2 linked regions of the Homo sapiens genome follow. The protein of the gene in region 1 purifies or fractionates together with the protein of each later gene. This does not show direct contact. Each region holds a gene or a part of one and is shown on either strand. Other genes may lie near its edges.

What was found.
Region 2: the proteins of CDH24 (region 1) and CEACAM8 purify together in Homo sapiens (co-immunoprecipitation; one large-scale study listed by IntAct). This does not show direct contact.

Annotation. Positions count from the first base shown.
Region 1 is NC_000014.9:23,047,353-23,051,168, reverse strand, and holds part of CDH24 (cadherin-24), read left to right. Parts: intron 1-1,225; coding exon 1,226-1,347; intron 1,348-1,430; coding exon 1,431-1,542; intron 1,543-1,893; coding exon 1,894-2,142; intron 2,143-2,689; coding exon 2,690-3,189; 3' UTR 3,190-3,708; intron 3,709-3,794; 3' UTR 3,795-3,816. UniProt on the Homo sapiens protein: Cadherins are calcium-dependent cell adhesion proteins. They preferentially interact with themselves in a homophilic manner in connecting cells; cadherins may thus contribute to the sorting of heterogeneous cell types.
Region 2 is NC_000019.10:42,588,335-42,592,150, reverse strand, and holds part of CEACAM8 (cell adhesion molecule CEACAM8 precursor), read left to right. Parts: intron 1-2,415; coding exon 2,416-2,694; intron 2,695-3,112; coding exon 3,113-3,367; intron 3,368-3,746; coding exon of another isoform or gene 3,747-3,816. UniProt on the Homo sapiens protein: Cell surface glycoprotein that plays a role in cell adhesion in a calcium-independent manner. Mediates heterophilic cell adhesion with other carcinoembryonic antigen-related cell adhesion molecules, such as CEACAM6.

The sequences.
Region 1 (3,816 bases):
GATATGCACAGATACTACCTGGCAGTGCACGTGTTATCTGTTAGTGCATGGATGTCTGTGTGGATGGCCGTGTGTGTCCGTGTACACACAGTATGTTTTTGGCTGCTTATATATACATAGCTTTGTGTGTGTGTGCGTTTCTAGTCACTGTCTTCTCATTCTCCTGCCAAATCCTGCTCCTACCCGCACCCAGACATCACCTAGCAGTGCTGGGCCCTTACCGCAGGGAAGAAGTAGACCTCCTCCCCATCCTGTCTCTGGGGTATCCCAATCCTTTTAGCCAGGCGATCCACTCAGCCTCCCCTGCCCATGCTGCATCCTCAGCCCCTTTCCCCAAGGCTAGTCAGCTATCCCTCTGCCTAGGGGAAAGACTAAAGGAATTGGGAGACCTGGCCTAAGAGAGGTGACAGGGAGACACACTTTGCATTCTCTCTTGGAAGGCACTGGCAGTGAGAAGCAAGGTAGGGTAGTGGTAGGGAGTCACCTGATGAAGGGATGGGTAAAGATGGGGCCTGTGTCTGGCTGTGGTACCCAGGCTGGCCTGGGCTCTGCACCCTGTAGATCATGCAGCACCTTTCTACCCAAGATAAGTGATGCTCACTGCTGTACTACAGCCTCCCAGACCTCTGATGGGATGTGTGTGTGTGTGTGTGTGTGTGTGTGTGTGTGTGTGTGGTGTGTATATGTGTCTGTCCACCCCACTGGTGCTGTGCATGGCCTCTATGCATGAAAATGCATTCTATGGGCACTGGGTGTTGTCGGGGGATGTGGCACCACATTCACTATGCATATCAAACATTTGCTTCATGTACATTGCATTTGTTTTAAATGTTGAGTGTACATTGGATATATGGTATGAATGTGTTTTGTATATTCATGGCTGTTGTCTGCATGCAACTCGTATGCACCTTCCCTCTGTCTTTCATTTATGCTGCATGTGCCCTGCATGTGGGTTATTGTATATGTGTATCATGGGTGCGGCATTCCTGTTGAATGTCTATTGTGTATCGCACATATCTTGGGTACTACATGAATATTGTATGCACTTGGTATTGTTCCATTCATTCTGCAACATTGTTTTCTACCTGTACATTACATGCATATTTCATGTGTTTCTTGTGCATGCTATATGCTTCATGTGGCATCCATGCCCATGCACCACATATGTTACGTGTAAACTGTGTGGTGTGTGTGTGGCGTGTATGTTTTGGTGTTCTGCCTTCAGACAGTTCTGCACAGGCCTCGCGCGTGCAAGTGGCCATCCAGACCCTGGATGAGAATGACAATGCTCCCCAGCTGGCTGAGCCCTACGATACTTTTGTGTGTGACTCTGCAGCTCCTGGCCAGGTGAGCAACTGAGGCAGAGGGGTTGGGACGTCCAGGCCTCCAGCAGCCCACTCCATACAAGGCCTCTCTCTTCTTCCTCCCAGCTGATTCAGGTCATCCGGGCCCTGGACAGAGATGAAGTTGGCAACAGTAGCCATGTCTCCTTTCAAGGTCCTCTGGGCCCTGATGCCAACTTTACTGTCCAGGACAACCGAGGTAGGTGGCCTCCTACAGCCATGTCCATACCTGCCTCTGTCCCCTTCTCCTCCTCCTCCACCCCTAGCCCAGCCTGCCTGACCCCTGCCCCACCTGCCTCGGCCTTCTACCCAACAGAAGATGGGTGTGGACTTGTACTCATTCGTTGGCTCTTTGTAAACCTTCCCCATGGGAAGCTGGCTCTATGGGCTGGACCTATGGGCTGGCTCTATGGGAAGCTGGCTCTATGGGCTGGACCTATGGGCTGGCTCTATGGGGGGCTGGCTCTATGGGAAGCTGGCTCTATGGGCTGGACCAACCCTACCTGGAAGGTGTCCCAGAAGATACCTCAACACCTTCCCTCTCCCACAGATGGCTCCGCCAGCCTGCTGCTGCCCTCCCGCCCTGCTCCACCCCGCCATGCCCCCTACTTGGTTCCCATAGAACTGTGGGACTGGGGGCAGCCGGCGCTGAGCAGCACTGCCACAGTGACTGTTAGTGTGTGCCGCTGCCAGCCTGACGGCTCTGTGGCATCCTGCTGGCCTGAGGCTCACCTCTCAGCTGCTGGGCTCAGCACCGGCGCCCTGCTTGCCATCATCACCTGTGTGGGTGCCCTGCTTGGTGAGTCAGGCCACAGTGGTACATAGCTGTGCGATCTGGGCCTGCAGGGGTGTGGAGAAGAACCAGGCCTCTGGACACAGGGAAATCCACCTTAGGGCTTGAACGACCCTCATACCTGGATTTTCCCACCACCTGATGCATCCAAGAGAAAAGCTCTGGCCTCTATCCGTGACCTGCCAATCCATAATGACAATGACAAGCCATAACAATGGTTTACTGAGCCCCTACTCTGTGCCAAGTATAGTGCTGGGCACGTCACTTGTGATATTTCATTTTATTATGTCAACAACCCTTAGAAGTAAATATATTTTCCCTATTCTCCACATAAGTAATCTAAGGGGCAAATTGAGGCTTCAGAGAAGTCTAGCAACTTCCCATGGTCACATAGCGAGTAAGGGCTGAAGTCAGGATTCAATGCAAGGTTTGCTAGATGTCAGCCCCTAAGCACAGGGCTTCTGTCACCTGATGGGTCAGCCTTTCACATGGAGACAGGCCGCCCGCTCCCGGCCCTGCTGGCTCAGGGCCTGTGTGCGCGCCTCTCGCGCAGCCCTGGTGGTGCTCTTCGTGGCCCTGCGGCGGCAGAAGCAAGAAGCACTGATGGTACTGGAGGAGGAGGACGTCCGAGAGAACATCATCACCTACGACGACGAGGGCGGCGGCGAGGAGGACACCGAGGCCTTCGACATCACGGCCTTGCAGAACCCGGACGGGGCGGCCCCCCCGGCGCCCGGCCCTCCCGCGCGCCGAGACGTGTTGCCCCGGGCCCGGGTGTCGCGCCAGCCCAGACCCCCCGGCCCCGCCGACGTGGCGCAGCTCCTGGCGCTGCGGCTCCGCGAGGCGGACGAGGACCCCGGCGTACCCCCGTACGACTCGGTGCAGGTGTACGGCTACGAGGGCCGCGGCTCCTCTTGCGGCTCCCTCAGCTCCCTGGGCTCCGGCAGCGAAGCCGGCGGCGCCCCCGGCCCCGCGGAGCCGCTGGACGACTGGGGTCCGCTCTTCCGCACCCTGGCCGAGCTGTATGGGGCCAAGGAGCCCCCGGCCCCCTGAGCGCCCGGGCTGGCCCGGCCCACCGCGGGGGGGGGGCAGCGGGCACAGGCCCTCTGAGTGAGCCCCACGGGGTCCAGGCGGGCGGCAGCAGCCCAGGGGCCCCAGGCCTCCTCCCTGTCCTTGTGTCCCTCCTTGCTTCCCCGGGGCACCCTCGCTCTCACCTCCCTCCTCCTGAGTCGGTGTGTGTGTCTCTCTCCAGGAATCTTTGTCTCTATCTGTGACACGCTCCTCTGTCCGGGCCTGGGTTTCCTGCCCTGGCCCTGGCCCTGCGATCTCTCACTGTGATTCCTCTCCTTCCTCCGTGGCGTTTTGTCTCTGCAGTTCTGAAGCTCACACATAGTCTCCCTGCGTCTTCCTTGCCCATACACATGCTCTGTGTCTGTCTCCTGCCCACATCTCCCTTCCTTCTCTCTGGGTCCCTGTGACTGGCTTTTTGTTTTTTTCTGTTGTCCATCCCAAAATCAAGAGAAACTTCCAGCCACTGCTGCCCACCCTCCTGCAGGGGATGTTGTGCCCCAGGTCAGTGCCCCTAGACTGTGGGGCAGGGCGGTGGATGAAGGCTCCCACTCCCCACTGCCTCTAACGTGGCTCCCCTGTCCTTACAGACCTGCCTGCATGGTTCCATCC
Region 2 (3,816 bases), on another chromosome or scaffold:
ACGGACCCCATGGTCATCCATTGGCTCAAATCCTTTCTTCCTGAGCATCCAAAGCTCAGAGAAGTGAGAGCAAATAAGCAACTGATTCATTCGTACTCCAGAACTAAATCACCTGCCCCAACTGTCAGAGCCAGTGCGAGGAATGTCCAGGCTCCCTCTAAGATCCTAACCCCCCTCACTGAACCTGAAATCCTGTTTCCTGATGTGTTGCTGTCACTCCCATGGGAGGACAAAAGAGAGGACTTTGCTTTCTCTCCCCACTCACACCCTGCACCAGGACAGGCCCAACATGTGACACACACTCGATCGTTCTCTCATGGAGAGGGAATGAATGAGAGAATGAATGATGCAAAACCTCTTTAGAGACTAGATCCTGGATGGCCAGGCAGGTGCTGTCTGATGGGCTTACTGCCTGTTCCACACACATCTGTGTCCTCATGATGGCACCATTGTGATAAGATGGGGTCCTTCAGGTGGGGAGACGCATGAGCCACTGGCGTCTCACTTAGACTCTGTCCAATTCGCAAAAACCTAATCCAATTCTACTTGTGTCTCCCGAGGTCAAGAGAAAATGAAGAAAGCATTGCGCATACCTGTTTTGGGCTCCTCCCAATTTTGCCTAACTCTGCATAGGAATTAGGGGCAGGAAGCTTTCTAAATTTACTAACATAACACACATCGCTTCTCCTAATTTGGCATTGTTCCTCCCTTTATGGAATTGACACACCTAAGACTTCCTCTCTGACCGGTTCTGTCCTCTTAACAGGACTCACGTGCCTCCCTCTACCTGGGAGTTGCTAATTTCAAGCGAACTTCAGGATCTTCCTTTGAGCATAATGTGATCCTGCTGGAATTCACAGGACGCCTAAACCTTATTTTGTTATCAAGAGAAATACTCCTTCCACCAATTGATTTTAGATCTGTGGACAATTAATAGCAATTTCTACTTATGGAAAAAAATTCATGTTTCCTCCAATTTTGTTTTTGACTATAGTCAAAACATAATATCTAAACTCCTGACAAATTTTAAAATGCAAATTAGAGTTACACATTGACCATCAAAAATCCCAAATCTGAAATGCTCCAAAATTCCACATTTTTTGGCCACTAACGTGATTCTCAAAAGAAATGCTCACTGGAGCATTTTGGATTTGGGATTTTCAGATTTGAGATGCTAAACCAGTAAGTATACTGCAAATGTTCAAAAATTTATAAAAGTTAGAAATTCAAAACACTTTTGGCCCTAAGCCTTATGCATAAGAAATACTCACTGTATATGAGCTATAGGCACAAAGCTGTACAGCAGATCTCTAGAACCTCCTCATCCTGTGTAACTGAAACTGCAGACCCATGAACAACTCTCCATTCCCCCCACTCCCAGCCCATAGCAACCACCATTCTACTACGTGATTCCATGAGTGTGACTACCCTAGGAACCTCATGTAAGTGGAATCCTACAGTATCTGTCCTGTCAGTGGCTTATTTCACTCTGTATAATGTCCAGTAGGAGAAAATATTTGCAAAACTTCTTCCCAAATTTCTCTCTCATAACTGTCAAACACCCACGGTCCATGAGGGCCAAATTTCCAGCACTTCAGGCTCCCCCTCCCCACCCGTCAGTTTGCATTTGCAAATGTCCACATGTATTTATGGGAGGATCCACAGCTCCTCATCTGCCCCCCGCAGGGAAAGAAGGGACATTAAAAACCAAGGAAAGGAAACAAGGTTCTGCTCCAAAGCCACCTGTTCTTGCCTGTCCCCTTCACTCCTTCTAGATCATTCCTTGGACTCTGCTCTATCTTTAGAGGTCACTGACTCAAGTAAGTCACGATGAAACACCTGGGAAAAACTGCCCCACCTTGTGGCTCCACTGCCTGACGACGGAACCGACCTCCAGGCTTGCCCCGGCCTCCCCTGTGTTATTTCTGTTGAAACACCCAGTCAGGAATTAAGGATAGTGGCATGTCCCATCATCTCCCATCTCTAGAATGTTCTTGGAAACAGAACCCTCAAAAACACACCTCGAAGGGCAAAGTAGGACTGTGAAGCTGGAAGGGACCCAGCACCTACATGTTCCAGGTGAGGACCCCTAGGTAGGCCAGGCAGGCAGCCGGTCAGGGAGGGACCAGAAGAGGCACCAGGATCTGTAACTCCCAGTCCTGGGTCTGTCCACAACCCAGCGCTGCTGCCCAATTCACATTTGAGAAAGTCTGTGTTTCTCCCACACAGAGAAGGCGGCCTCATGGTCTCTGAGCCCCGATCATTGTGCATCTGTCTTGTGACACACACACCCACCGTGGGCTTTTAAGGACTCGAGTAGGCTGAGAGGTGGGAGATGCCAACTCTAATTGAAATTTGCCTGTGGAGGAATCAAAGGTGCCACACAGGGCAATCTTCTCTCTGTTTTCTGCACAGCGGAGACTCCCAAGCCCTCCATCTCCAGCAACAACTCCAACCCCGTGGAGGACAAGGATGCTGTGGCCTTCACCTGTGAACCTGAGACTCAGAACACAACCTACCTGTGGTGGGTAAATGGTCAGAGTCTCCCGGTCAGTCCCAGGCTGCAGCTGTCCAATGGCAACAGGACCCTCACTCTACTCAGTGTCACAAGGAATGACGTAGGACCCTATGAATGTGAAATACAGAACCCAGCGAGTGCAAACTTCAGTGACCCAGTCACCCTGAATGTCCTCTGTGAGTATCTTCTGTTCCTCTGTGGCCCAGGCCACCAGCCCAAATCCACGCAGCCAGAGGCCAGGCCTCTCAGTCCCTCTCAGCTCCAAAAATGCAGATTCCCCACCCACCCCTAGAAACCCAGCTCGTCATGACTTTCTGCCCCAGGCAAACATGGGTAGGCCTAGCCTTGACCAAGAATAAGAGGGGAGGGGGTGCTCCTGTCATGGGAGACTTGGAGTCCACATCTTCTGATGGGAGAAACAGGTAAATGTCTCGGACTCTGTCTCAGTAGAAACAGCGGGGGTTTGGTTGGGGTTGGTTGGGACTTGGCTCAGGTTTGTGACTTGGCTCAGAGGGACACTGTGGCTCTTCCACAGACCAGGAGCTTCCCCTTCCCTCTGATGACATCACCTGTGACTTTATTCTTTTGCTCTAGATGGCCCAGATGCCCCCACCATTTCCCCTTCAGACACCTATTACCATGCAGGGGTAAATCTCAACCTCTCCTGCCATGCGGCCTCTAATCCACCCTCACAGTATTCTTGGTCTGTCAATGGCACATTCCAGCAATACACACAAAAGCTCTTTATCCCCAACATCACTACAAAGAACAGCGGATCCTATGCCTGCCACACCACTAACTCAGCCACTGGCCGCAACAGGACCACAGTCAGGATGATCACAGTCTCTGGTAAGTGGATCCCTGGAGCACTGGCAGTATGTTTTCTGGTAGAGTCTATCTGGCTTTCAGAGATGAGCCAGAAAAAAAGTTTTATTCCCAGCCTGTGTCCAACAGCACAAGCAAATCCCCAACTTTTCTCCTAAACCCTCCCAGTTTATCTCTATAGACTCTCTTCTGCCTGTTTTTCTGATTTCTCTTGGCTGACCTCGGGGCTGACCTGAGAAACGTGGAGAGGGGCCTTCGTCAGCCCCAGAGCCCTATGTCATGGAAAGGACTTCACCAAGGGGGAAGAAGGAGGGTCCTCAAGGTCAAGTTGCTTTTCTTTGTCACCAACACATGGCACCCCTGTTTCTGTTACCCCTTTGTTTTCTTTTACCTATGCCATTAGCTGCAAGAAACATCCAAGGCTTTGAAACAAGCCCACAACGTTCCCCAAATGGGAGGAGGAGCCCCTTGGA